Linked DNA regions of Homo sapiens. The protein of the gene in region 1 purifies or fractionates together with the protein of each later gene. This does not show direct contact. Each region holds a gene or a part of one and is shown in the gene's direction. Other genes may lie near its edges. The genes, in order: ZRANB2, RSBN1L, LUC7L2 and PLD1.

Evidence for each region.
Region 2: the proteins of ZRANB2 (region 1) and RSBN1L purify together in Homo sapiens (affinity purification with mass spectrometry; 3 studies listed by BioGRID and IntAct, with this or other methods). This does not show direct contact.
Region 3: the proteins of ZRANB2 (region 1) and LUC7L2 purify together in Homo sapiens (affinity purification with mass spectrometry; 5 studies listed by BioGRID and IntAct, with this or other methods). This does not show direct contact.
Region 4: the proteins of ZRANB2 (region 1) and PLD1 purify together in Homo sapiens (affinity purification with mass spectrometry; 3 studies listed by BioGRID and IntAct, with this or other methods). This does not show direct contact.

Annotation. Positions count from the first base shown.
Region 1 is NC_000001.11:71,078,030-71,086,038, reverse strand, and holds the start of ZRANB2 (zinc finger Ran-binding domain-containing protein 2), read left to right. Parts: upstream 1-5,003; 5' UTR 5,004-5,043; coding exon 5,044-5,099; intron 5,100-7,330; coding exon 7,331-7,383; intron 7,384-7,473; coding exon 7,474-7,582; intron 7,583-8,009. UniProt on the Homo sapiens protein: Splice factor required for alternative splicing of TRA2B/SFRS10 transcripts. Binds to ssRNA containing the consensus sequence 5'-AGGUAA-3'. May interfere with constitutive 5'-splice site selection.
Region 2 is NC_000007.14:77,762,458-77,769,482, forward strand, and holds part of RSBN1L (lysine-specific demethylase RSBN1L), read left to right. Parts: intron 1-3,037; coding exon 3,038-3,175; intron 3,176-6,203; coding exon 6,204-6,346; intron 6,347-7,025. UniProt on the Homo sapiens protein: Lysine-specific demethylase that specifically demethylates methylated lysine residues of proteins.
Region 3 is NC_000007.14:139,411,870-139,418,894, forward strand, and holds part of LUC7L2 (putative RNA-binding protein Luc7-like 2), read left to right. Parts: intron 1-681; coding exon 682-711; intron 712-5,592; exon of another isoform or gene 5,593-5,668; coding exon 5,669-5,860; intron 5,861-7,025. Other genes in the region: FMC1-LUC7L2 readthrough protein, read left to right, coding at 682-711, 5,669-5,860. UniProt on the Homo sapiens protein: May bind to RNA via its Arg/Ser-rich domain.
Region 4 is NC_000003.12:171,800,483-171,807,507, reverse strand, and holds part of PLD1 (phospholipase D1), read left to right. Parts: intron 1-7,025. UniProt on the Homo sapiens protein: Function as phospholipase selective for phosphatidylcholine. Implicated as a critical step in numerous cellular pathways, including signal transduction, membrane trafficking, and the regulation of mitosis.

The DNA of each region.
Region 1 (8,009 bases):
TGACGGCAGGAGACCCCAGGATAAAGGATGTCTGCAGACACACATACCTTTTTCAAGTGCTCTCCACTAGAGGTGGTTCCTTGGTCTGACCAGTCAGGGAAGAGCCCACATACTGGCTCACACAGTCAGCTCCAGACCAAGGATGCATGGGGGGACAGTGGTAGCCCAGAGCACTGAACTCATCCTGTGTCTGATATTAGTGAAAATCACCCTCAAACCACTGAAAAAGCATCATTCTGGTGGCCCAAACTTGTGCGATGAAAGAAATAATGCCATGAAAGAAATAATGCCCCAGCCAGTGGGAGCTTTGGCCCTCCAAGTTGCTCTCCAGGAACTGGCAGGGCCATCTGGCCCTAAGCCACCCTACAGGTGCTAGTACCAGAGATCCTGCTGCACTGGTGGACCCTGAGCATGTTAAGAGGGCAATATGGTCAGGAGGGCCTGAAGGGAAGAAACAAAGAAGCCAATAACATTTTCTTTAGGCTTAGGACTGTCCCACCCAACAGGTCCTGCTGACCTGGCTGGTCCCCACCACCAAAAGCAATAGAACATCTCAGGACTTCCACTGTCCAGGACCCACATAGTACTACATTTTGGCTCCATCCTGCTGAATGGTCCAAGACACTCGAGGGGAATTAGGGCACCTCAAGGAAGGCCAGGTGCAGGACCAGGCTAGGAGCCCTGGTTGCCCAGGTCTAAGGGCAGTATTGCTTTTTTTTTTTTTTTCAGTCTTCTGAACTAGGTAACAGAAAAGCTAGTCTGAGGAAAGAATAACGCATATGCAGAACAAATTCAGCAAAGAGACAGAGAAAGGGTGCTGCTTGAATAGAGGATAGTTTCTTTTAGGATATTTCTGAAACTGCATTCCTGCTCTGGCATTCCATCAAACACCACCTTCTCTTTATAATATGCTCCCCCTTTTTGTTGTTTAAGTCATTTTATTTTTATTTTTGTTACTTGCAAGCAGAGTGAGCCCTAATGCAATATTTAGAGCCAGATTCTTAGCTTTGTAGGTTCAGAAACTCAACTTTACCATTTCCACCAGAGCTAATCTCCTGGGGACCAACATATTAAGAGGACCCATAAACAACTGATATGCATTTCAGAGTGCCAATTTCTCAATCTATAAAGAGAGCTTAATCCAGATGAACAACTTGTGTGGATAAATTCACTCTGGGAATTTCACCACAGTAGGTTAAGTGTGCTCAGGAGAGAAGACAAATTATCAGAGGGCTGTTTGGTGAGCATATAATAAGAATAAAGAGAATGGGTAGAATTTTTCTTTCAAATTAGGATAGCTGAAATGAATTTCTTTTGTAGGAATATTTCTCTTTGAAAAATCAGCTAAAGTCCTTGAACTCAAATAACCTCTTCTGGTCATTATCAGATGTATTCACGCATTTTGTTCATTATCCTAGACTTACTATAGAGGATTTTTCTCTTGACACATAATTCTCCCAGAAAAATTTTGCTAATTACAGTTAGTACAGTTGATTAACTGTTGTTGCATTAACTGCATGTCATCTACCAGCTTTGGCATCTATTATTCCTATTGACCCCATGAAGTCACTATCTCCTCTCTACTCCCAAGGGTGATCACTATCCAAGATTAGTTTGGCTGCTTTTGAACTTCATGTAAATGGAGTCATATAGCATATGCCATTTTGTGTCTTGCTTTTTTCAATTCAAGACTGTATTTGTGAGTGAAATACTGTTCAATAATCTGAGTGTAATTTGTTATTCTTGCTACTGTATTACACATTCCAACTGTGTAAACATATGACAATTTATTTATCTAGGCTACCACTGATAAGCAATTGGGAAGCTTCCAGTTTGGGCTATTTTGAATAGTACAGCTCTGAACATTACTATATACATCTTCAGTGAACATTATGTGCATTCCTGTTGGTAATATACCTAAAAATGGAATTTCAGGGTCATAGTGTACGAAAATGTTCAGATTTAATATATTCCGACATTTTCCAAAGTAGATGTATCAATTACTTTTTGCAATGTATGAGAATTACAGTTGCTCTACATGCTTTCCAACACTTAGTATTCTCTGATTTTTCATTTTAGTCAGTTTGATGAATGCATAATGGTATCATATGGTTTTAATTTGCATTCCCCTGACTTGCAGTACCAACCAAGACATAGAAAGCCCACAATAACCTATCTTTCCTAATGATTACAGTGAGAAACTCAAGACAAAATACCAAAAGCAACTGCCTGAAGACTCTGGAAAAACAAAAACAAAAACAGGTAAATTGGAGTGGAGAATGAAAACCTGGAGAAATGTTCTGTATGTTTGCTTTTCCTCTTTTCTCACAGCTTTTGACCTAAGGCCCAACACCTAGTGAAACTGTGGTGACAGGAAAAACCGACAGAAACCTGTATGTCTTGCCAGAATGGGGATAGGGGGCTTTTGTGAGCCAAAAGTTAGTCGGGGGAATACTTAGCTCCCCCTCTTCTGGTTTTTCTTTCTTTTTTTTAATTTCTCTCTCTCTCTCTCTCTCTCTCTCTCTCTCTGGGCATTGGCCCAAGAGTGAGGCCCTAGGCTTGGGTATCTACAATACTAACAGAAGCTCTGTTTTTATGGACAAAGGAAGTAGAAAAGGAGGCCTTTGTGGTCTGAAGAGTGTAGAGGGAATCCACATTTTTTCTCTCTCTTTTCTGTCACTGCTTTGTCTCAGAATCTGCCCTAGTCAGCTGCTATGCCAGGCTGCTAAAACTCCAAGAGGAACCTCATATTTCTGGTGAGAGGACCTTGCGAGACAAAAGGAGAAGAATGTAAGAGGAGAGAGCTAGAGAAGAGGATCCCCTAATTCTATGTATGAACCTATACAAGTTCTGTGTTCACACCTAAACTGAACACGTGCAGAACAAACACAAAATAGCATAGCAAAACTGAATTTCAATTTAAACTACTGCTAACATCCCCAAATAATCCCTGAGTATTGTAGGTATAGGACACAGCAAAGCCTTTGAAAACCCAGCTGACATGGAACCAGTACTCATAGAAGATGAGACCGAACTTTTGACCTGAACCAAATTGGATCGATTGCCTTCTAAAACAAAAAAAAATCAACATTCCCTAAAGGCTTTTAACAGGACTCAGTCTATGCAACATAATGTTCAAAATGTCCTAGATAAAATCCACAATTACACAGTATAAAAGAACTGGAAAAATGTGACCAACTTGCAAGGGAAAATATAATCAACACCTGCTAACTCCTAGATGACCAAAATGTTATAATACAGATTTTAAAGCAACAATCATAACTAGAGAGTAGTTGAACAATTTCTCTCCTAAACATAATCATACTTGCATAAAGACATTTCAGTCAATGATGAACCACATATACAAAGGTGGTCCCATAAGATTACAATACCATATTTTTACTGTACCTTTATATTTAGATACACAAATACCACTGCGTTACAACTGCCTACAGTATTTAGTACAATAAGATGTACTAAATGCAGGTTTGTAGTCTAGGAGCAATAGGCTATACCATATAGCCTAGGTGTGTAGTAGGCTATACCTGCTAGGCCTGTGTAAGCACATTCTATGATGTTCACACAACAGCACAATTGCCGAAAGTGGCATTTCTCAGAACATATCCCTATCATTAAGTGAGGCATGACTGTATATGCTGTATTCTAAAAAAAATTAATGCATTTATATACCAGAATCTATGCATAAGAATGCTCATACTGGTGTTGTTTGTAATACCAAGCCTGAGAAACAGAAGGAATAAACTGTCACAAAACCACAAAACGGAATAGTATCAGTATACATCAGTGCAAATAAAAGAATTACACCTATACACTTCTACATGCAACTACCTAGGATTAATTTAGAAGCATAATGAACAAAAAAAGAGTACAGAATCAACTATGCTTACACAGCTCATAAAATTAAACATACATGTATGTTAGGTTTTGAAGGGAAGGCAAGGATTAAAGAAAGAGAGGGTGGCTTAACAACAAATACAGGATTTATGTCCAGCATAAGACCTACAGAGGTGGGAGACCAGCTTAATGCCAGTGCCCGTTGCTTCTTACAGGCTGGGGTGATTTATAGGCCTGGGTGGGAGTGGTCTGGGGGGCCATGGCCTGCTTCCTGGGAACATGTTGATAAGGTGTTCCCAGGACGAGGCGGCTCTGGCCCTTGTTCCAGTGGAATGTGGTACTTTCTCCCAGCAGAGTATAAGAGGCAGCCTGTTTCTCACGCCCGAACCCCGTGGAATGTTTCACTTTGACTAAGGTCTGCAAAATGGCAGGGGGGCTTACAAAAATGGTGCAGTTTGGACTAACAACGTACATAAATTTTTAAAAAGCAAAAGAATAAATCCCAAATATGGGAAAGTGTTATCTGTGGAAGAAAGTAATGGGATGGTATCAGAAAAGACACTGGTAATTTAAACAGTGTTGACAATGTCTCAGTTTTAAAATTACCAGCTGGTTCCCATGTATAAGTTGCTTACTTATCTGTTACACCTATTTATGTATATATAAAAATAGGTTTCCAAACGACATCCCATGTGTATGAAATAACAGAATTTTTATGCCTTATTAAAATAATTTCTCTAAACACTTGAAGAGCCCGAGCCGCCTCTTACCCTAAACGAACCCCACGCCCCTGAATTGATCAGTCACTTCCGCCTCCACCTTTCCAGCTCCACCTAAGGAAGCGGAAGTACTTTACTCTTGGGTCCTCCCACCTGTAGGGGGCTCTCCGAGGCTTCTAGTGCCACGAAGGCCTCCTGCCTGGGTTGTCCTTATGGCGCCTGTGAGTTTAGTTCTAGAAAAGATATTTGTATTTTAACTTTTCCATCTAACAAACAGTAGCACAGGCATCTTAGTCTGGACAACAACGTACAAGCTGAATTCCTGGCTAGTTCCCTCATTATCAAACCCTGACACAGTAGTAGGCGCGAGTCAGGCAGTGTGGGGACAGCCCCGAGTTGCCGAAAGTCCCCGGCCCGTTTTCCTCCTGTGAAGACATAGCTGCGGGTGGCTGTGCTGGTGGCGTTCAAGATGTCGACCAAGAATTTCCGAGTCAGTGACGGGGACTGGATTTGCCCTGACAAAAAGTGAGTTCAAGAAGGGTCCTGAATTGGGACGGAGTTTGTTAGTGGAAGCTTTCCGAGGTCCGTCCGGCATTTTCCTTTTTTATGATTTTCTGTGCCTTAAGACGGGTTGAGGCGGCGAACCGCCAGTTCCCTGGCGGGAAGAAGGCTCCCAATCTCCTCACGAGAGAGGTCTTTCCGGGAGCCTTTGTTCTAGATATGTCTTCAGCGTTTCCTCGACATTACCTCCGCAAGGTAGCCTCTCTTTTTAGAGTGCGAGATGGCCTACCTTTTTGCCCCCACCCCCCTCCCCCGCCCCGGCCAGGTTTTAGCGATAGGAAACCTCTCCAGTCAGGCCAGCTTGGTGTTGGATCTCCCCCACGTGACTTTTCTCTGCAGAACTTTACTCTTGTTCACGGAAAATATTGCTTTCTCGCACTCGTCCTTTTGCCTCTTATAGTTCACCTTGTTTTGTATTTTTACTCAAACTTTTCCTCCATACTATTTTCCCCTTTTCCGGAAGCTCTACCCTCTTCGGTTTGGGAAATTCTGACATTTTCTTTGTGGATCATTTCTCCACAAGAATTGGGCTTTTCGCCTCCTTAGAGCCGAAAAGGAGGGAAGAGGCCTGTGTTTTTGCCTACTCAGCCCTTAAGATGCCTGCAGCAGAGAAGCACGTGTGTTAGTGGCTCTGCTTTTTGACATTGTTGCCAAAGCCAGTACTCGACTAGATAGTTAATCAGATTTTTTTTGAAGGGTGCACAAATAGGTGTATCTATTCGGAAATAACATGGAAAATAATTTAATGTACAACTCATGTTCACATAAAAGCCTTTTATTTGTTGTACCTAAGTTAGCCACAAATAGGTTTTGATTGTAAAAAGCAAAAACTTTGAAATAAACCTGGGTTTAGTTAAAATTCTATTACTTATTTAACTGCTAAAAAAGGAATAGAATTTTTTTTTTAATGAAAACATGAAATAACATGGATAGGGTGTGTAAACAGTGACGTGTAGCAAATTCTAATTGGTGGCTATTGATAGTAATTTGATATTAAGATGACCTGAAGGAGTAGTTCAAGCCTAACAAATGATACTGAATAGAACCAAAGTTATATGTTATGGATAGTATTGCTCTGAGTGGTAAGACATTATTGAAAACGTTCAAAAGATTTAGAACAACAACTTCTGACTTTGTTGTTACCTGTAAAATAATGTGCTTTTGTCAGTGTCTTTAATGACAGCACACCCAGAGGTAGGACTCTCAATGAGAGTTCATTTCAACTCATTTACAAATATATGAATAGAATGTTGTTTGTACAATATGTTTAAATGCAGGATAAATTTTCAGAGTATATTTTCCATGCTTAATGGAGTTAAAAGGAATATTTTTAGGGGAAAAACTTAACCTAAATATTATTTAGAGTGTTTCACTTTAGTGTCATCCCATACTTCACATCTGTATTGTATTCTAGTATAATGCCTTAAAAATCAGCTTTTTAAAGTTTAAGCATTCCATGTTATCCAGAGCATTTAACATACTTTTACCAATATACACGTACACTTCTAAGGTCATGTGAGTGAACCAGTAATTCTTTAGGTTTGAGTTTGTTGAGTATAAGCATAAAGTCTTACTGTACTACATGTGTTGAGATTATTGGTTTTGGTGGTTGTGTCATTTTTTTCAGCGAAGTCTCAGAGGTTTGAGAAATGCCCTGTAAAACTCAGTTTTCTTACAATTATTGAATCTTTTTGTATTTTTAGTCAGTACAACCTATCATATTTGGTTCCTTAGCATCCTACCTACTGCATGTAAAAAGATAATTTCATTAAGATCCATGAAGCCCTCCTTGATTTATAAGTTTTTTTCCTCATTGGTCCACCGCTAGGGTTTAAAACTCCCTGGTAGCTTGTAAGTAATTAGTGAAGTGGAGTTAACTCTCACTTTCAACTTTGTAAAGGGATTATAACTAATGATATGTGCTAATGTGAGGACTTGAGGCAGAGATCCTAAGTAACTTAATCAAGATCACATGACTGGTAAATGGAGGATTGGGATATCTTATTCTGAATTTGTGGCTCCAATCAAGTATTTTTCCCCCAGTAAATTGTGTGGAGTTTTTTGTTGGTAACATTGACATTAACATGACTAAGATGGATTAGAAGTTATGAATTCCAGATATGTAGTGAGGACAAGTTAAAATGTAAAATTTTACAAATTTAAATTTTTATAAATGCTTTTTAATCTGTTTTTAGATGTGGAAATGTAAACTTTGCTAGAAGAACCAGCTGTAATCGATGTGGTCGGGGTAAGTATTTAAAGAAGATTCTATTTATACTGTATATGTATCATTTATTTATTTCTCCAGGTTCATATTGCATGATTTTTCTGTTTTCAGAGAAAACAACTGAGGCCAAGATGATGAAAGCTGGGGGCACTGAAATAGGAAAGACACTTGCAGAAAAGAGCCGAGGCCTATTTAGTGCTAATGACTGGCAATGTAAAACGTATGTTTTTTAAATTATTGTCTGCTCTTTCTTCCAAAATAATAGATCTGGCCACTACTTGTTTATATTACAGCTCTTATTAGTGACATTGACAAGCCAGGGTAACCTTTTAAATCCAAGGTATTGTTATTCAGTCTCATCTTTAAGTATAGTATAAAGAAGTTTTAAATTATTCTTTGCATTTTTTAATGGTAATAGTTGTCACTATGATGGATTATGTATACCAGTAAACAAATGCTTATGGTAAGCTCAAAACCAATCGGGGGGTGGTGGTACTTAAAAGTACTAAGGCCTATTACTTCCTTTATTGAAAAATCCCAATTTTTAGACTGTATAGTTAGTGTGAAATACACCACAAAACTCATTTTGCCTGTTTACAAAATAATGTTAGATTCATAAGTTGTGTGCCGTAAGTAATTAAGTCTAA
Region 2 (7,025 bases), on another chromosome or scaffold:
ATTTTGAAATAAAAAGCATTATTTGTAAACTTGGAAATTAATGTAAATGTATAATTTGAAAGAAATGAGATGGCTAGGTCAGTAATACTTCTTCAGTCAATGAAATAATTATTCTAACCTGAAATAGCAACATCTGGTCAAAGCAAAATTAGTAAATAAAGTTCTTGAGTCATGACACAACATATGATGTGTCTGTAATATTACCACCCAAGTTTTACCCAATTTTTTCCTGTTACTCAATGATACATGTTTTTACTCACATTTAAATACATAAATTTTACTCTACAAGGACTGTGTTAACAATTGGTTCCGGTTTTCTGATTATTATATTATCTCCTACTCTCTATAATTTAATAATGTTATAGTTTTTTGGTTTTATTTCATGTATAATATGACTTTTTAAAACTACTAGATAAATTGAAAGTTTAGTTGTGCTTCGTATTTTAGAAGAATTCACTTAATGAAAATTCTTTCCTAACAGTCATCCCCTCCGCACAAGATAAACTGCCCAAATTATTTAGGTGATCATTGTTGGTACTGTGATGTCATAGAATGAACCAACTCAGTGGCAAGGACTTGATTATGGCTTTGTTAGAACTAAATGTTGTAGGTATCTAATTTAAACAAGATAAGGAAATTTATGCACAGAAAATGTACTTATTTGTATGAGGTGGAAATATATATAATTTGACTTTTTTTTTTTTTTTTTTTTGGTCTCGCTGTGTTGCTCAGGCAGATCTTGAACTCCTGGGCTCAAGTGATCCTCTTGCCTCTGCCTTCTGGGTAGCTGGGATTACAGTTTCGTGTCACCACCCCTAACTCTAATTTGACTTTTTAGATATATTTCAAAGCACTTGGAAAATTTGTGTTTTACAATATCAGTTGTTTGATTTCACTTTCTAAATGGTTATCGTCTCTCAAAACCCCTTATGGTCATTTGCAGACACAAAACTCAGAATCTCAGAATCACTTAACAGACTTGATGTGTTCTATTCTGGTAAATGTGCTAGAGTTGAGATTGATACCCTTAGCTTCTTTGATAGACTGCATTACAGAGGTGCATAGACTGAATTTCTTACTGTGCTGCTATTAATGCATCTAGAGCCTGAAGACTGTTGTAGAGTTAGGCTTTAACTGTTAGCTCTCTTGATATTGGAGATGATAGGAATTTTTAGGCGACAGGAAAAAGATGAGACAATGAGCATACAATGGGGGCATAAGCCCCAGCTGTTCTTATATTTGTTTGTTTTTTTGAGACAGGATCTCGCTCTGTTGCCCAGGCTGGAGTGCAGTGGCCTGATGACAGCTCACTGCAGCCTGGACCTGCCAGGCTGGAGATATCCTCCCACTTCTCAAAGTGCTGGGCTTACAGGCCCTTAATTTTCTAACTTGTAGGAATGGTTTGTGGTTCTGAGAAGTCAATTTGTAACAGTTTAGGAAAATTTAGGCTTAGAAATCTGGTGAATTTATTAAAGAATTAATGTCATTATTAAACTGCTTTGCTGATTATAATAACAAATGAGATTCTCTTCCTTAAATGATTTTGTATGAAAACATGTGGGTTGGGGTTTACTTTGTTACGTTGTGATACTCTTACCAGCTATGATTGTAAGGATTCAACTTTTGATGTGACTATCTTTTATAATCTGTGTCTGTGATGTGATAAAAGTTGACCATCCATGTTTGCCTGAAATACAAGACTTTCAGTTTTAAGACTGATAGTCCTGGGCAAACTGGGACAAATTGGTCTCCTAAATTTGTTGTCCACAAAGGCTAATCCAGAGAAAGAGACAATTACAGTTTTGCTTATAATTTGGTTATCAAAACGAGTTGTTTCGCTTGAAGACAGACTCAGCTTGTTTACTAGTGTTAGTATATGAAAACACATAGGTTTCTTTGTCAGGATTTAAATATGCTGGCAAGAAATGTAGTTACCAATCAATCTTGAGGTGCACATGGCTTTGTTTTGGCTCTTTGAATGCCACCCATTTGCTAGCATTATGGCAGGTGAGTTTATATCATTATCAAATTTTCTTCAGCAATCTGCTGTAAAACATTCCAGTTAAGGAAACCACAGCTCAAGGAACGCAAATGATTTCTGAAGGTCATGTAACTGGTAGATAGCAAAGGCAGATTTGGATTTTAGGATTCCTGATTCTTAATTTCTTTCTTTCTTTTTTTTTTTTTGAGACATAGTCTCGCTCTGTCGCCCAGGCTGGAGTGCAGTGGCACAATCTCGGCTCATTGCAAGCTCCGCCACCCAGGTTCACGCCATTCTCCTGCCTCAGCCTCCCAAGTAGCTGGGACTACAGGCGCGCGCCGGCCACCACACTCGGCTGATTTTTTTGTATTATTAGTAGAGACGGGGTTTCACCATGTTGGCCAGGATGGTCTTGATCTCCTGACCTCATGATCCGCCTGCCTTGGCCTCCCAAAGTGCTGGGATTACAGGTGTGAGCCACTGCGCCCGGCTGTGATTCTTAATTTCTAGTAGTTTCTCATGAGAGTTAATAATAGGTATATAAACTGGTTTCTAGTTAATATGGTAAGATCAAAAAAGAAGAGCATCCCTGGTGGCCTTTTAGTCATATAAGCCACTGTTGATGGTTAAATGTTTTCAGAGGGTCTAATTTTGAAAATGTTGATGAAAAGATATGAACTTCATTTCACTTTAGAAAAATGCAGGTACACCAACTTTTGAATACTCAGATAATGAGTTCCTCTGTTCTAAGGAGATGTTAGTTGTCTAGAATTAATGCTTATTTGTCTTAACTCTGTTTTCATAAGCAGTGTGTAGGAATAGTTAGAGAAAGTAAAATAGCTTGATTTAGTGCAAGTTTTATTTTTAAAATGCCTTATCTGTTACTGTTAGTAAAGTTTTGTTTTGCTTGCCTCATTATGATATAATATTCTGAGATAATAATTTATTGCTACAAAATGATAGCAAGCATTATCTTATGTGTAACTTTTAATTAAATCCATATTCTTCAGGTAAAAAGAACGTATTTAACTTTTAATTAAATCCATGTTTCTTCAGGTAAAAAGAACGTATTCTCATGGTACTTACAGAGCTGGCCCAATGAGACAAATAAGCTTGGTGGGAGCAGTTGATGAAGAAGTAGGAGATTATTTCCCTGAGTTCCTTGACATGTTGGAAGAGTCACCATTTTTAAAAGTAAGAGACAATCTGTCATGGGATTAGAGTTTTTTTTTTAAAAAAGGGAAGAAAAACCAATATGAGTAATCTAAATTGTGATTGTTTCTTTCATGCTACATGCAATATAAATGAATGGCTGTTTCAGAAATAGAAACGTTTTGGTTTTATTTGAACTGGAGGGAAGGAGAGCAAGAGATGGGAAACTGACATAATTCTTGTGTAGTGTGTACATGCGACATCTCAGGTTCTAATTGTAATGGCAAAGCTAAGTGGTGGGCCATGAAATAACACCTCTTAACACTTTAGGAAATTAGGTTCCATGTGTTTATCAGCTCTTTGTAAACTAAGTACTAAAGGACTTAAGAAGTACAGGAAGGATTCTACTACAAATGTTTAAGACAAAGGAATGGCAGTTTAGCATTCCTAAACTAAATTCCAGGAAAACTCGCCTGGGAAATTACACACCCATATTTTAGCCATGGCTGTACTTATCTGGGTTGGGCAAGCCCTTTAAACTTTCTGGGCTTCAGTTTCATCATCCATAAAATAACATGTTTAGACAATGTAGCCAAAGGCCCCTCTATTTAATTTATTTTTTTGAGACAGCCTCACTCTCTGCCCAGGCTGGAGTGTAGTGGTGTAATGTGGAGCCCTGACCTCCGTGGGCTTGGATGATCCTCCCACGTCAGCCTCCCAAGTACCTCGGATTACAGGCACATGCCATCATGCCCAGCTAACTTTTGTATTTTTTGTGGAAATGGGGTTTCACCATGTTGCTCAGGCTGGTCTTGAACTCTTGGACTCAAGTGATCCTCCTGTCTTGGCCTTCCAAAGTGCTGGGATTACAGGTGTGAGCCACTGTGCCCACCACCACAGGCCCCTTTAAATAGTTTGTAGCCAGATTCCTTTTTTTTTTTTTTAAAGCCTCTTGATTTTCAAAAAGTATTTCTTATTGTGAGGTGCTAGGGCTATCCCACTGAGAGAGGAATCTCTGAGCTGTGTGGTTAGGTTAATTATTTAATCAGTAACTCAAAGGTCAATGCTGCAAACCTACACTGAAATTCAGGGTCCAGGTAAGCTGTGGAATGTGACAAGATTTCTGATACCACATAATCTATAGGACATCTCTTCTTTTATTACTTCTGTTTGCTTGGTGTTTTTACCCTATATGTACATATATCTTTTTCTTCCCTTTCTCTTTAACCTTGTTCCATTCCTTTTTCTCTTTTCCTTTTAAACTTTTTGTTCCTTTTCTACTTCTCTCTAGTAGTTACATCATGGAATTAGGTTGCATTTATTATTGGACTATATTTAAAAATTACCAAATATTACTTAAATGGTTGCTTCAAGTTTAATTTTCAAAGCACATGAACTAAATGCATTATTTCTCCTTTCCTTTCCTTCCCCTTCCCCTTCCCTTTCCCCTTCCCTTCCCCTTCCCCTTCCCTTTCCCCTTCCCTTCCCCTTCCCCTTCCCTTTCCCTTTCCCTTCCTTTCTTTCGATGGGGTCCTGCTATGTTGCCCAGGCTAGCTTTGAAGTCCTGGGCTCAAGCAGTCCTCCTGCTTCAGCCTCCCAAAGTGCTGTGATTACAGACGTGAGCCACCCACACCCAACCTAAATGCATTGTTTCTAAAGAAATTTGACAAGCCTTTTTGAAAAGGGGGTGTGTGGTGAAATTTTTTTTTTTTTTAATTTTGTTCTCAACATTCCATGGACAGTGGCCCTCAGTTTCCTTCTTCCCTCTCTCTGTCTTTTTTTGTTTGTTTGTTTTTGGTTTCAGATGGAGTCTCGCTGTGTCATCCAGGCTGGAGGGCAGTGGTGCGATCTCGGCTCACTGCAACCTCTGCCTCTCAGGTTCAAGCAATTCTCATGCCTCAGCCTTTCGAGTAGCTGGGATTACAGACACACACTACCATGCTAGGCTAATTTTTTGTATCTTTAGTAGAGATGAGGTTTCTCCATGTTGCCCAGTCTGGTCTCAAACTCCTGAGCTCAGGTGATCTGCCTGCCTCAGCCTCCTGAAGTGTTGGGATTACAGGCCTGAGCCACCGTGCCCGGCCACCGTCTTCTCTTTTCTCTTCCCCTTCCCCTTCACCTCTGTCTCTCGCCTCGCCTCCCCTCCCCTCCCCTCCCCCCTTTTTCCCTCCCCCTTCCCCTCCTCTCCCCCCTCCCCCTTCTCCCTCCCCCTTCCCTTCCTCTGCCCCCTCCCCCCTTCTCCCTCCCCCCTTCTCCCTCCCCCCTCCCTCTCCTTTCATTCTTTGGAGTCTCGTTCTGTCACCAGGCTGGAGTGCAGTGGCGTGATTTCGGCTCACTGCAACCTCCGCCTCCGAGGTTCAAGCGATTCTCCTGCCTCAACCTCCTGAGTAGCTGGGACTACAGGTGCGCGCCACCATGCCCAGCTAATTTTTGTATTTTGTAGAGACGGGGTTTCACCGTGCTGGCCAGGACGGTCTCGATATCTTGATATCTTGACCTTGTGATCCGCCCGCCTCGGCCTCCCAAAGTGCTCGGATTACAGGCGTGAGCCACTGCGCGCCCAGCCTTGTTCTTTCATTTTAAAATACTTTAGTCTCTGGTTTAAGCCAACAACCTCTTCAAGAAACTGCTGAACAGAAATATGTTTTGATTTTGTTTTGTTTTGTTTTTAATTATCATTAATCAAAGAGGTATCCAGTTTTTAAACTTAAATTTAATTGTTCATTTTTATAGATTCTTATGAGAGCACTTGCTTATTTAGTCCGTTAACATCATATGATCTATATGGTAGAAGGAAGAATAACAAATGATGAATATAGTGAATCATACCTCTAGCAGGGTATAGGGACAGAACCATCCAAGCATAATTATTTTCTTGGTGTGTTTGAAACAGTTTTTTGAAGCAAAGTATATCAATATATAGGGATATATTCAATATTATGTATTTCAGATGCTTAAGTATAAAGCTGTGTATGAAAGTGTGTTTGTCAGGGGAACAATATTATTATTAACATACACTTGAAGATACATTTTGAAAATAATTGCAATCTGCATAATTATTTATCTCCAGTGTACACTGCCATGGGGGACGCTATCTAGTCTAAAATTACAGAGTCGAAAAGATAGTGATGATGGTCCCATCATGTGGGTTCGTCCAGGAGAACAAATGATCCCTGTGGCTGATATGCCAAAGTCACCTTTCAAAAGGAAAAGGTATGTTGTATACACATTTTTATTGGAGGGGATGAGTGTTTGTATGTTGGGGTGTGTATGTTAGTTGAAAATTGGAGGAAGGAGGAATGCAAAGTTTAGAGCATAATTGGAATATAAATTTAAAAATAGCGATACATGCTAATACAATTTGTTATAAAACCTAAAATGTAAATAAAGCATGAGAAATGTAGGCAAATGACAAGAAATTGTAATGATGGATGGAAAAAATGTCATAAGATATAAACTATTTTAGAATAAATGTAATATTCAGAACCTATACTAAGAAGACTAAAATGTTTTGTGGAGGATATAAAGTAAGATCAGAACAAATGGAAAGCCCTGCTGTGTTCTGGATTGGATAAAAATGATAGTTCTTTAAAATTTTCTGCATTTCAATTGGACTAACACTTCCAGTCCTGGATAAAATTATTTTAAAATTCATAAGGAAGTAAACTTTTCAGTGAAAGAGAAGATTAGTGAGAGGCAGCTTATGATACAGGATATTAAAAATTACTATAAAGTTCAAATAGATCATTGGAATAAGAGTCCAGAAATAGATCTAAGTATATTGGGAACTTAATATATGAGATAGGTGGGAAGAGGAAGATGTATTTAATGAATAATGCTGGCATATTTGGCTCTCATAAAAACAAAGGCAGAGCCCCTACCTCATACAAGA
Region 3 (7,025 bases), on another chromosome or scaffold:
AATGACAGATATAAAAGAATTTTTTCCAAGCTGGTAAGTGGTTTCTGGAAAATTAGCAAGTTGTGATATGTAGGTTGAGCATCCCAAATCCAAAAAATGAAATCCAGTGAGCTTCAAAATCTGAAACTTCTTGAGTGCTGGCAGCATTTAAAGGAGATGCTTATTAGGGCATTTCAGATTTTGGTTTCTGGATTTAGGGATGCTGAACCAGTAAATTATAATGCAGACACTTCAAATTTTGAAAAAAATCGGCCACCTGTAATCCCAGCACTTCGGAAGGCCAAGGTGGTTGGATCATTTGCATCCAGGAGTTCAAGACCACCCTAGGCAACAAAAAATGTAAAAATTAAAAAAAAAAAAAACAAAAACAAAAAACAGAAAAAATCCGAAACACTTATGATCCTTAGCGTTTCGGAGAAGGAGTACTCAACCTGTACTGTGTTTTAATCTCCTAGGAACATATTCTTTAAGAGCCAGGTATTCTTGAGTTAAGCAAACCCTGCAAGGTGAAGAAATCTGTCGAGTTTGTGGTGTCTTTTGGAAAATTTTGTGTGCGTAGGTACACGCCTTGTATTTATAAAATTAATGTAAACATTAGAAATCAGGAAGAATATAATGTAACACTGCACTGTTTTCTTATTTATAGCCACTTTTCTAAAAATACATATTTTTTTTTTTTAGGTCCCGATCACACAGCAAGAATCCAAAAAGGTAGGTGTATTACATAAGACAGGTATAAGTAGTGAAGTTGTCTTTTTCAAAGGTAGTTTTTATAGATTGATTAAATGGTCCTTTAAAAATTTTCTTTTTTGGCTGGGCACGGTGATGCATGCTTGTAATCCCAGCTACTCAAGAGGCTGAGGCAGAATTGCTTGAAGCCGGGAGGCAGAGGTTGCAGTGAGCCAAGATAGCACCACTGCACTCCAGCCTGGGCAACAGAATAGGACTCTGTCTTTAAAAAAAAAAAAAAAAAAAAAAAGAAAATTTTTTTTGAAATCATTTAGATGCTCAGAGTAGATACGTAAAAGGATTAATTTTTTAAAAATCAATTTGGGTGGTACATTTAGGAAACATGTTCTAAGAGGTTGTAGCTGTTGAAAACATTAGTAGGTTAATAGTTGGATAAAATTTTGATTGATCCACTGTGGGTTAAGCAAAACCAAAATGTTTAGTATACCCTCCAGTCTTGACTTTATGTGAGTTTATTACCCATTCCTTTATACAGTGATCACAGAAGGCTTTCAGAGAGGCATTTGCAGCCTTAAAAGAGCAAGACAATACTTTGTTTTGACTTTCAGCGTTAATATTTGGGGTTTGAAACCTTTCTTTGTAGTTTTTGCTAGTTGCTGATACATTTTTTTGTCTGAGAAAGGCAGGGAAATGTGTTGTACTTCATCATTCTTTCTCAGTTCTTCACTTGCCCTTCTCATTCCAGTCGTTGAGCTTTCTTCATGGATCCATTCCCACCTAGAATGCCCTTTCTCAGTCTTTTCCAAATTCTACCATTCCTCTTGTTCAGATCACATCTTCTTTTAGAAACTTTCTGAGTTCTCAGCTCTAGAGACTATTTCCCAAGAAGTTTTCCCTAAAAAGTAGAGAATTTGTTGTTATGAAAGAAAAACCTGGCTGAGCGCAGTGCCTCACGCTTATACCATCACAGCTCTTTGGGAGGCCGAGGCAGCCAGATCACCTGAAGTCAGGAGTTCGAGACCAGCCTGGCCAACATGGCGAAACTCCATCTCTACTAAAAACACAAAAATTAGCCGGGTGTGGTGGCAGGTGCCTGTAATCCCAGCTACTTGAGAGGCTGAGGCAGGAGAATCACTTGAACCCAGGAGGTGGAGGTTACAGTAAGCCGAGATTGTGCCACTGCATTCCAGCTTGGGTGACAGAGTAAGACTGTCTCAAAAAAAGAAAAACAAAAACCTTACAGTTCTGTTAGCAACATCTATCAATGATATTTCTGCCTAAAACACTAAAAAAACTAAAGAACATTAATAAGTGGGGCCAGTTGTGTCAGCTAATTTATATTATTGGTGAATTTCTCTGATCTAGCATGATAAGTAGAAACATTAAACTGTGATACTGTTATTGTTTACTGTTTGATTAATATAAGCTGGTCCCTTTGTTGAAAACATAAAGTATTGCACATAGAACATCTTTAGATATTTGGGCCAGAAATTTAATTTCTATTCCTCTAGTCCTGTTACCTAGATAATATGTTTGCCTTGTAACTGGGCTCCTTAGTTCTCTGTGCTTGCCCACCCCCCTTCTTCACCTCATTCTATTTTTCACACGTCAGCCAGGATGAGCCTTTAAATAAATGAAATACATCACATCAGCCCTCTGATTCTCCAAAGGTTTTTCATCTCATTCATATGAGAAGTTAACATCTTTACCAAAGCTTTTACATAGGGTGACGGTGTGGCCTGGGGTGTCCAATCTTTTGGCTTACCTGGGCCACACATCAGATACACTAATGATAACTGATGAGCTGGAAAAAAAATTGCAAAGAAATCTCATAATATTTTAAGAAAGTTTACAAATTTGTGTTGGGCTGTATTCAAAGCCATCCTGGGCAGCATGCGGCTTGGAGGCCGCAGGTTGGACAAGCTTGGCATAGCCCAAACTGCCCTGGGATAGTTCTGGTTTATGTCTTTTATCCCAGAATATGTATTAATAGCTTCTCATTACATTCAGTAACTTATTCAGAGCCTTCTAGTTTGAATGATAAAGTACCTGGTCATCCTGCCTGTAAGACCCTGATATTACTTCCTTTTGCTCACTTCATTCCAGCCACACTGGTCTTTTCCTTCAACATGCTGAGCTTTTTCCCACCTCAGGGACTTTGCATCTGTGTTCCCTCAGCCTGAAGCACTCCTCTCTGAGATGACTGATTCACTTGTTCCCTTTCTTCTTTCAGCTTTGCTTCAGTGCCAACCTATCAGAAAAGCCTTCCCTGCTTATTCCGTATAAATATTTCCACTCTTTTCTCTTTTTCCACTCTACGTAATAACATCTTTTAATTTTTTTTTGAGACGGAGTCTTGCTCTGTTGCCCAGGCTGGAGTGCAGTGGCAAAATGCCAGCTCACTGCAACCTCCGCCTCCCAGGTTCAAGTGATTCTTCTACCTTAGGCTCCCTAGTAGCTAGGATTATAGGCACGTGCCACCATGCCCTGCTAAGTTTTTTTTTTTTTTTTTTTTTTTTTTTTTGTATTTTTAGTAGAGTAGGGGTTTCACCATGTTGGCCAGGCTGGTCTTGAACTCCTGACCTCAAGTGATCCGCCTGCCTCAGCCTTCCAAAGTGTTGGGATTACAGGCATGAGTCACCATGTCCAGCAATAGATCTTTTTTTTTTTTCTTAACCACCTGACATATCTTTATTTACTGCCTACAAACCTGTATAGATCCCTTTCTATAGTATAAGCACTAAGTTTAGTGCAGGAACTTTGTTTTACTTGCTACTCAACCTCCCCTAGTATAGAACAGTGCAAAAATACCTAGTGAATATTTTTTGGATGAAAAAATTACCTAGAATTTTTAAAAAGATGAATAAAGTTATACATTGGAAGAAATGGCATTCATAATAACTCAAAATGAGTGGTTAAACGAAGTATGATTTGATAAAACTTACACTGAGAGTTTTATATTTTTTCCCTCTGCTTCCTTTTGGAATTACTCTTTTCAGCTGTGGAAATAACGCTTTTTTTTTTTTTTTTTTTTTGAGACAGGGTCTCACTCTGTCCTGAGTAGCTGGGACCACAGGCGTGTGCCACCATGTCCAGCTAATTTTTAAAAATTTATTGTAGATACGGGGTCTCCCTATGTTGCTCAGGCTGGTCTTGAACTCCTCCCGTTTAAGGATTAAGCAGTCCTCCCATTGTGGCCTCCCCAAGTGCTGGGATTACAGACACAAGCTATTGTGCCCAGCCAGAAATACTCTTTTTAAGTGTGGCTAAAGCTACGTCCATGTCATGTACCTTTCTTTGACTATAATGTTGACATAAGCTGAATGCCTTTTAGCATCGTTCATAACAATCAGTTGAAGATAAACTGTATTTGTAAACTATCTCATATGTATAATATGATTTTGAACTTGCTGTATCAAATTATGAGCAAACCTCACATTCTTAAAGTGACTTAAATTTAAGAGTTTTATTGAGGTATAAAATATATATATATATATATATATATATATATATATATATATATATATATATGATTTACTCTGAAGTCAGTGATTTTTTAGCAGATTTAAAGCTGTGCAACTATCACCATAATCCAGTTGAGAACATTTCCATCATTCTTAAAGTGACTCTTCTAACAAAGTTGCATTCCTTTGTTTCCCCTTGTTTTCTGTCAAACGTTTATGTCCTCTCCATGCCATTTCCACCCTCACCATGCACCCCCACCCACCCCACAAGTTAGTTTGTGACCTGGTGGAGGCTATAAAAGTGTCTTACCTTGTGGGTTTTTTTCTTTTCAAAAAATGTCTTTATTTTGCCAGCACCTTGATCGTATATTTTCTGGTTTTTCAGAATGTTTTTCGTTCTCTATTTCTGTGTATTCATTAGAAATACATTTTTTTTGCAATCTGAGTCAAGTTCTCAAAAATGATTTTCGCAAGTGTTCTTTCTCCCAAACTGTTTGCTCCTTGAATAGAGAACTGTCTTACTGTGTTTGTTTTGTCTTGCTCTCTATTGCCCAGGCTGGAATGCAGTGGTGTGAACACAGCTCCCTGTAGCCTTGACTTCCTGGGCTTGGGTGATCATCCTTCCTTAGCCTCCCAAAGTGCTGGGATTAAAGGCGTGAGCTACTACCCCTGGCCCTTACTCTGTTTTGATTACACTGTGACTAGACATGCATATTGTGGGCATTAAAAACTTACTTCTATGGTTATCTCACCTTTCTAATTCAGACAAAGAGTAATTTGTCCTGACGTATTCTTCCTCATCTCTTCTCTTCCCTTCTGTCCAGGTCTGTCAGGTACATATTTAATTTCTAGAGGATACAAAAATGTTCAAGATATTTAAGTGCAATTAAATTCATAACAAATCTAGATAATATAGCCCCTGGCATATAGTAGTGGTTCAAAAGTTGCTTTCACTTGAAAAACTATTTCTGATAATAAATTTATACATTACTGATTGCTCTCTGAGAATTATCAATCAGTGTCTTGTTTTTGAGACAGAATTTCACTCTTTTGCCCAGGCTGGACTGCAGCGATGTGATCACCAGGTCATTGCAGCAGCCTTGACCTCCCTGGCTCAAGAGATTCTCTCACCTCAGCTTCCTGAGTAGCTGGGACTACAGGCATGTGCCTCTGTGTCCAGCTAATTTTTGTATGTTTTATAGAGACAGAGTTTCGCCATGTTGCCTAGGCTGGTCTTGAAATCCTGAGCTCAAGCGATCCTCCTGCCTCAGACTCCCAAAGTGTTGGGATTACAGGTGTGAGCCACGGCGCCTGGCTGAGAATTATTAATGTTTTATTTTGAATTCTAGTATGTAGTTATTAACACACCAGCAATTCAGTGTAGATTTAGCTGACTTGGAATATAATTGACATTAAGACTACTGAAAAAAAGTTTCTCTTTAAAGAAAAGGCTTTAATAAATGAGAAATATAGTAATTACAAAGGTAGAAACAAAATCAAATCTTGTCTGGTAGATCCAGGTCCAGAGAGCATCGCAGACATCGATCTCGCTCCATGTCACGTGAACGCAAGAGGAGAACTCGATCCAAATCTCGGGAGAAACGCCATCGCCACAGGTCCCGCTCCAGCAGCCGTAGCCGCAGCCGTAGCCACCAGAGAAGTCGGCACAGTTCTAGAGATAGGAGCAGAGAACGATCCAAGAGGAGGTATTGATGTGTCAATCAGAGGATATGGAGCTACCTTAATGTTTTAGAGTTGTTTATGTTTACTTATGTTACTTATGTTTAGAGTTCAGATTATTGGTTTGAAACTTTTGCATCTGGTAATATGTACACATTTATGTGTGGGTGTACAACATTTTTCTGTGATTATATGGGTAGTTTTGAAAGAATATACTTATGAGCCAGAGCAAGAAATTGGAACCAATATGTGTAGAGGTTATTGCTTTTCTCTGCTTAGTGTGTCTTGGAAAAAAGTTCTTTACAGGTAAATAATTTTAAATACCAATACCCTTAGTATGGATCAGCAAATTAGGGGCTCTGAGAAGTCCTTTCATTACAAGAGTTGTTTAGCTTTGATTTATTGTTTTCTAAACTTATTTGAGCTGGGATGCTTTTTCAGAGCAGACACATTCTAGTATATTCTTGTTTTATCTGCACTATAGATATGTATTGTTACATACCTTCAGCTTGGCAAGGCAGACTAATAAGGAGGTTCCAAGACTTCCCTTGGTTTAATGAGAACATTCAAAAGGTGCAGGCATAGGGTAAGGTATGTTTGAGGACTTGAATATCTATTAAGGATAGACAAAGGATTATAATGTGGTAGAAGAGTTTAGCATTCATAGTCTGTATAGATCAAACTGTCAAAACTTCTCAGGTCACATGATGGCCCTTAAACCAGGTAATTTCTGTGTAACGTAAGCCATGTTTAAAATTGCTTTTTTCTTGACAACTATTCAGAAGTATATGTATGATAAACATTTTTTGAGTGCCTAGTACCTACTAGTCTTACATATTCTGTGGATTACTCCACATAAAATCTATAATAAAATCCACAGAAAGCTGTTAAAATCTTTCCTATTTTTTTTTGACTCAACTTTCCATTCCCTGAAATCACTCACAAGCTGAGTTTGTTAATAGGCTCTCAATATTTTATTTCTTATATTCTGGCCTTGTTTTTAGTATTTCTTAAGGTGATTTTAATAATAATTAATTGTATATGTTTTACTGTACTAGACTTAGTAAAACATAAGAAAGACGTATAACATAGTTGAACAACTTTAAGTTGCTCTAAGAAGTTTCCTATGTGAGGCTGGGTGCCATGGCTCACGCTTATAATCCCAGCACTTTGGGAGACCGAGATGGGCGT
Region 4 (7,025 bases), on another chromosome or scaffold:
ATTTTTAAGTGTACATGTAGTGGCATTAAATACATTCACATCGTTGTGCTACCGTCACCACCATCCATCCACAAGACTCTTCATCTTTCTTACAGGGTTTTAATAACATTTTAATGATAATGGTTGTGTTGCAGGCTTTAGTTTTATCACTAAGCAAGGTTTGAGTTCCTTCTCGTAGCTTTAGAGAAATGCACCTTTTAAACTTTTTTTTTTGAGACAGGGTCTCACTCTGTTGCCCAGGTTGGAGTGTAGTGGCACAACAGCCTTGACCTCCTAGGCTCAAGTGATACTCCCATCTCAGTTTCTGAGTAGCTGGAACTAGAGGTGCGCATCACCATCCTTGGCCAGTTTTGTTTGTATTTTTATAAAGATGGCGTCTCACTGTGTTGCTAGGGCTGGTCTTGAACAGCTGGGCTCCCGCAATCCTCCTACTTCGGCTTCCCAAAGTGCTGGATTACAGGCATGAGCTACCATACCCAGCTGAGAAATGCACTTTTAAAAGAGAAAAGGTAAAAAGCCATAGCCAGACTGTTTAACAAATCTTATCTACAGCAGGAAAGACCTAATACATTACTGTTTGAGGATAAGCTTGTGATGTATTTAAACTTGTGTCTAAGGGTATTGTGGGGTTTAGCTGTCAAGAGGAAGGAACACGTAAGGGAATTATTGTTATTGATCATTTCCTCTCCTGAGTATCTATCAGAAAAATAACAATTGTCAGTGTTGTCCTCTATAGCAGTGCAAATAGTACCTATCTAAACTATGCTTGAGCTCAGGTAGTGTTGCCTTTTTAGTAACTAAAAGCAGTGTGTAGCAATTTCCTGTCCATCCCAGATGTTTACTAAAGATTGATACTAGGGGACCCAACACATAAGATATGTCTCTTTAAACTTGTAGTTAGGCTGAGTCATTGTGTTCACAAGAAAAGCTGTAGCTCTGCAAGGTCTGGTTTTGTGTTTACAATCCTTTAAGTCTTAGCACCACAAAATAAAATGTATTTGCTAGGGTGTGGCTAAAAGTTGTTGCAGGGTTAAAATGAGAAACATGTAAACCTAACTTTCCCATAAGCCTGTGACATTTCTGATTACAAAGAGAATCATACAAATCGCATCTTATGCTTCAGTGGGAACACATTCCAGTGTGTTAGTTTCCCTAAATTCACAGTGCAGTGTAAAATCTGGACCCCAGCTGTTTTAGTGCTGGGTTATTAAGCAAAAGTGTATGTTACGTAAGTGTTTCATAGTGTCACAGTGTTTTTTTTCTGTTGTGAAACTTTCTTAATTTTTAAATTTATTGAGCAAACATTACAACGACAGAATAAAATGAATTATTTATTTAATAAACACTTACGTGGTGTTTACTTTGTGCCTTGCACTCATCTAAGCATTTTACAAACATGAATACATTTAACCCTCAGAACAACCCTGTAAAGTAGGTAATCTTATTATGGCCGTTTAATTTATTTATTTATGTTTGTTTTACTGTATTTTATTTTGTAGAGATGAGGTCTTGCTATGTCACCCAGGCTAGTTTCAGACTTCTGGGTTCAAGTGGTCCTCCTACCTTGGCTTCCAAACGTGCTGGGATTCACAGGCATGAGCCACTGAGCCTGGCCTATGCCCATTTTATAGATGAGGCAGTTTGAGGCATAGTGAGATCCCACAACTAGCACATGGTAGAGCTGGGGATCCATCCCAGGCAGCTTGCACCCAGAGTTTTGACACTGCTGTCTGTCTAGAAAAAAACATAACCTGTGATTCCATCCTCTTAACAAACTTTTTTTTAGGTTTTTTTATTTCCATTTCGTCCTTGTTCTTTGACATAATTGCAATTATAGTGCAACTCAGACAATCTGTTCAAGTCCTTTATTTTTCGGAAAACGAAATTAAGGTGGAGCATGGGTATGTCAAAGGGTAGAAGCACTGGGGCAGGGTCCTGGAGATCCTCTGCTGGGCCAGGCCTTAACTCCTGATTGTGAGGAGATTGGGCCAGGGATCCTGGGAGAGTCTGGGAGGCCAGGTGTATTTGGAAGGGGTTGGGTGTTATGTGCAATATTTCCAGAGGGAAGCATTTCAATATTTTAATAATTGTTATGACCATACTAGAGCTAATCTGCTAAATAAGGGCCCACATTATGGCCGACTGGGTCATGGCAGGTCTTGCTTCCTAGGGCTCCAGAATCCTGGATTGCTTCCCCCGTTGCTCCTAATGCCCGTGACCCTCAGCTCCCCTCTGGATGAGGGCAATATTTTATTCTGTACTCAATCATTTTTTGAACTTTTTGGATCTAGAGTTGGGAACCTTTTGGAAGCCTCTGACGCACAAAAGAAAACCAGCCAAAAGCAACATGGAAATAAAAATAACTTAGTTTAGTCAGTTCTTTTGTTAAGAAAGAGAGAGAGAGACTTCTGAGGCCATAAACTTATGAACTTTATATTAAGAACAGGAAAATAAGGGTTCAGAATTTAACAGTGATCTTTTTCAAAGTAGGCTTTTACAGATGGCACATTTAGATGAAGGAGAATAGGAATAAACATGGGGAAAAGGAAAGCCGTAGAAAGGGAGGGGAGAAACAAATGCAGAGACGAGGCATTGGCAGAGGGCCACAGATAGGAAGCAGGGAGCTAATACCTTTGTCAATTCTTTACAAAAAGCCTTGCATCTCAGTGTGTTACCACTGGATGATGCCTTCAAAATCTCATAAGCAGTTGGAGATGATCTTTCCTTTGGTTTATCTTGATGGGATCTTAATGTTTAAACTGTTGCTAATCAACAAAGCATGTGGACAATAAGATACAAGGGAACTCTTAGCCCCTGATTGGGATCTTCATAACAGTCTAGTCTAGTTTGGTTTATGCCACTTTCCATGGGTGGATTTTATATGTAGTGTGATATTAGAATCACTGGATTTGCCATTATTTTTTCTATTGTCTGTCTTCCGTGTGAGAGGGCAAGGTCCTTGAGGTCACAGACTGTGTTTTTGTCATTTTTGTGTCTCCAGTGTCCATTGTAGTGTACAATAGATGTGAACTGAATGAAAGGGTACATGGATGAAGGGAGAAGGTGTAATCCATTTTATTCAAAATACATAGGTATTTCCAGAAAATAAGTCTTTATAATTAACGTTTTACTTATTTATTTGCTCTATGGTGCCATTTAACTATTCTTAAAAATAAAATGTGTAGATGTAGAATGGACAGTCTGTGGCATTTTGGGTAAACAGCTGTACTCACTTCATTGATCTTTTTCTGCCCAATTTCTGATGAAGGAGTCCTTTGAAATAAAGAGTTTGAGTAGGTAGCCATGGGTTGGGATTGGAGATTTATGACTTGGAGCAGAAAAACATTTCCAGATGTGTAGGGCAGTGGTCCTCTGAAGATACAGACCCAAAAGTGAGAAATTTAACCAAAGGGGCTAAGAATAGGAAAAAAAAATGAAGATGATGTTTTAGATATTGTTTTTTAAATGTCACCATTATTCCTGCTTTGGAATAAAAAGAGGTAAGAGGTAAGGTAGGAGTACAGAATTTGGGGATGAAGTATATTTTTGGCACTAACATCACTGTGATGTTAAAACTATTTTTAAAAGATAATAAATACCCACACCTCTGACTTACTAATTATTTTACTAAATTTATTGCTCTCTATGCTATTTATGTTTATTATTTCTATATGGTGAAAATACTGTAACTATTGCACGTCTTCCCCAAACTGTATGTTCTAGTGATATCATGTTGGTAACTTGGAAGCGGCCATGATAGGAATTTCTTTTTTTGAGACAGAATTTCACTCTTGTTGTCCAGGCAGGAGTGCAATGGTGCTATCTCAGCTAACTGCAACTTCCGCCTCCCAGGTCCAAGCGATTCTCCTGCCTCAGCCTCCCAAGTAGCTGGGATTACAGGTGCATACCACCATGCCAGGCTTATTTTGTATTTTTAGTAGATACAGGCTTTCACCATGTTGGTCAGGCTGGTCTTGAACTCCTGACCTAGTGATCCTCCTGCCTTGGCCTTCCAGGAATATTTACACCATCGAAATTGGCAAACACTACAGTTAGGGTTTCTCCTCCACCCGGACCTGGTTGCTAAGCATTTCTCAGCACACCACTGGCTTTGCCCAGGGGGTATATCCGAGCTTCTCCACCCCATCTTTCTTTCTCATTATGACCAAAGAGATTTCTCCTGCACTTTTCTGTCAACCGTCACAGTGATTCTGAATTTGGGGATGTGGTTGGGGAGAAAGGAATACGCTTAGTTATGCAATGTTCTTATCTCTCTGTGCCTATGATCTGGTCTGGTACAAGTCTCAACTGCATTCAATTTAACCCTTGATTCTTCCTTTTGTAGAGATAGAATTCTCCCTGCAACCTCCTGAAGAGCTGGCCTTCCCTCCTTCTCCATCACAGTAGTTCCAAAGTCTGGCTAAACAAAATCACCTGGGAACTTCTTAAAATACAAATTTCCAGGTTCTATCACATATGTAATAAATTTAGATTCTTGAGGAATGGGACTCAAAATAGTATTTTGTAAGTTCCCTTGGGAGTTTGATGATCACCCCATGTGCCTTCTGGGCCCCTCTTGTGGGCTCTTGCTCTCCAGCCCTGGCACCTGTGTACCTTGCTTAGAATCAGGTCATCTGGGCTGCTGGACCCTGGCCACATTGTATGGTAGCCTCGATTTTTATGTTTGAACTCAAATTCTGATCCTGTGAAACTTGGTAATCAGGGGCCACTCTTTGCCCCATTGGCCTGATTTCTCATGCTCATTCATTGGAGCCTGGGTTTCTAACTAGGAAGGCAGCTAGCGTGTTGCAGGGAGACTATCAGAGGAGTCAGGTGTGCTAAGTTTCATTTCTACTTTAGCGTCTGTGTAACCTTGATCAACTTGTTTCTCACCTTTCTGAACTACAGTTGCCTATCTCCAGAGTTTGTTAGGAAGGTTGTTTTTAGAACACATCAAGCTTTGTTCCATCTTAGGGCCTTTTAATCATGCTATTCCCTCTGCCTGGAGCACACTTCTCCTAAGTCTTTGCATGGCTTCCTTCTTTTTTGTCATTTGGATCAATGACAAAATGGTCAAATGTTATCTCCTTGGAAAGGTTTTTTCCCTGACCATTGAAAGCTGCCTCACTTCACAGTCCACATTGCATTGCTTGCTACCTGATCCTGTTCCAGCCTTTCACCTAGGGTTATTTTCATGCTAGGATTCACCACTATCTGAAATTCTTTTTCTTTTCTCTTTTTCTTGCTTACTGGGTTTTCTACACAAGAACTTAAGCTTTATGAGAGTAGGGACTTTCCTGACATGTAGTAGGTGCTCACTAACTACTTGTTGAATGACTACCTTTCCAAGTTGTTATATAAATATATGATGTTAGTGTGAACCCTGGTTCCCAAGGGATTCATTTGTTTTCCTAATTGTTCTTTTCTGACCTCACAGATGTTGCTGTTTTTATGACAATGATTCATTGCTGAGATATTACTGCAATTTGGAACAAAGTGCTGCTCTCAACTGATGAGAAATAAAATCTGTAGCTTTCTATGTGAATGCCTCCTGTCGTTTTCAGAGAGCTTGCAAAAACTTGTTTCAGTTGCATCTGTCATGTGGGTGTATAATCTGTGATAGAATGGATCGATTAAACATGAAAGTATCGTAACATAAATGAGACTGATTTGGGGAAACTCCTGTTTCCTACCTTTTTTGAGTTCTACCGGGGTGGTTTTTGGTAGTGTCATGGGGACTAGGGAAATGTGTATCACTTTGTAAGAAAGGCAGGCCATAGGCTGGGCACAGTGGCTCATGCCTGTTATCCCGGCACTTTGGAAGGCTGAGGCAGGTAGATCACTTGAGGACAGGAGTTCAAGACCAGCCTGACCAACACGGTGAAACCTCATCTCTACTAAAAATACAAAAATTAGCTGCGTGTGGTGGTGAGTGCCTGTAATCCTAGCTACTTGGGAGGCTGAGGCAGGAGAATTGCTTGAACCTAGGAGGTGGAGGTTACAGTGAGCTGAGATCGTGCCATAGCACTCCAGCCTGGGTGACAGAGCGAGACTCCGTCTCAAAACAAAAACAAGAAACAAAAAGAAAGGCATGCCAGAAACGCATGTTGGATATGTTCGTCCTGTCTGATCTCACCAGATACACGGGGTAGGTTTGACTGACAGTGAAGTAATTTTTGCAGATCCATTGCCTGGAAGGCCAATAAAGTTGGCAGTGAAAGCTTTCATCCTGTATTTGCAATAGCCCCTCTTCAGGATGGTGTTGAAGAATTTATCAAGCACAGAGTCTTTTTGGTGCTAACACAGTACTAGGCCTAGGCTAGTGAGTCTAAAATGTGGTTCCAGCCCCACAGCTTATAGTCTAATGCAGTCATCCAAAGGCAGGACTGAATTGTGCAGCAGAATCCTGCCAGGCCTCCTGAAATGGGCTGGCTTTTATAATGATTGTATGTTCCAATTTTCCTTGATAGTGATTTTCAAACTGCTTTGTTTCAGGGCAGTACAGTGGTATGAATATTTGTCTTCCTCAAATTCATATGTTGAAATCCTCACCCCAAGGGGTGATGGTATTAGGAGGTGAGGCCTTTAGGAGATGATTAGGCCATGGTGGCTCTGCCCTTATCAATGAGATTAGTGCCTTTATAAAAGAGGCCAGAGAGGGACCTCTGACTCTCTTCACTAAGTGACGGGTTAGTGAAAAGGCAGCCTCTGGGGAAGCAGGCCTTCACCAGACACCAAATCTGCAAGCACCTTGATCTTGGACTTCCTAGCCCCCAGAACTGTGAGAAGTAAGTTTCTGTTGTTTATAAGCCACCTAGTCTATGGTATTTTGTTACAGTAGCCTGAGTGGACTAAGACAGGTGGCTGGCATTGGAGTAGAGATTGGGTCCAGGGATGTAGACAGCAGACTTCTGGAGCATCTCTAAATACCACATTTAATCAGAGCATCTCATTTAGAAAACATACTATTGTATATTTGCCTTTTAAAAATTATGTTTGGGCCAGGCACGGTGGTTCATGACTGT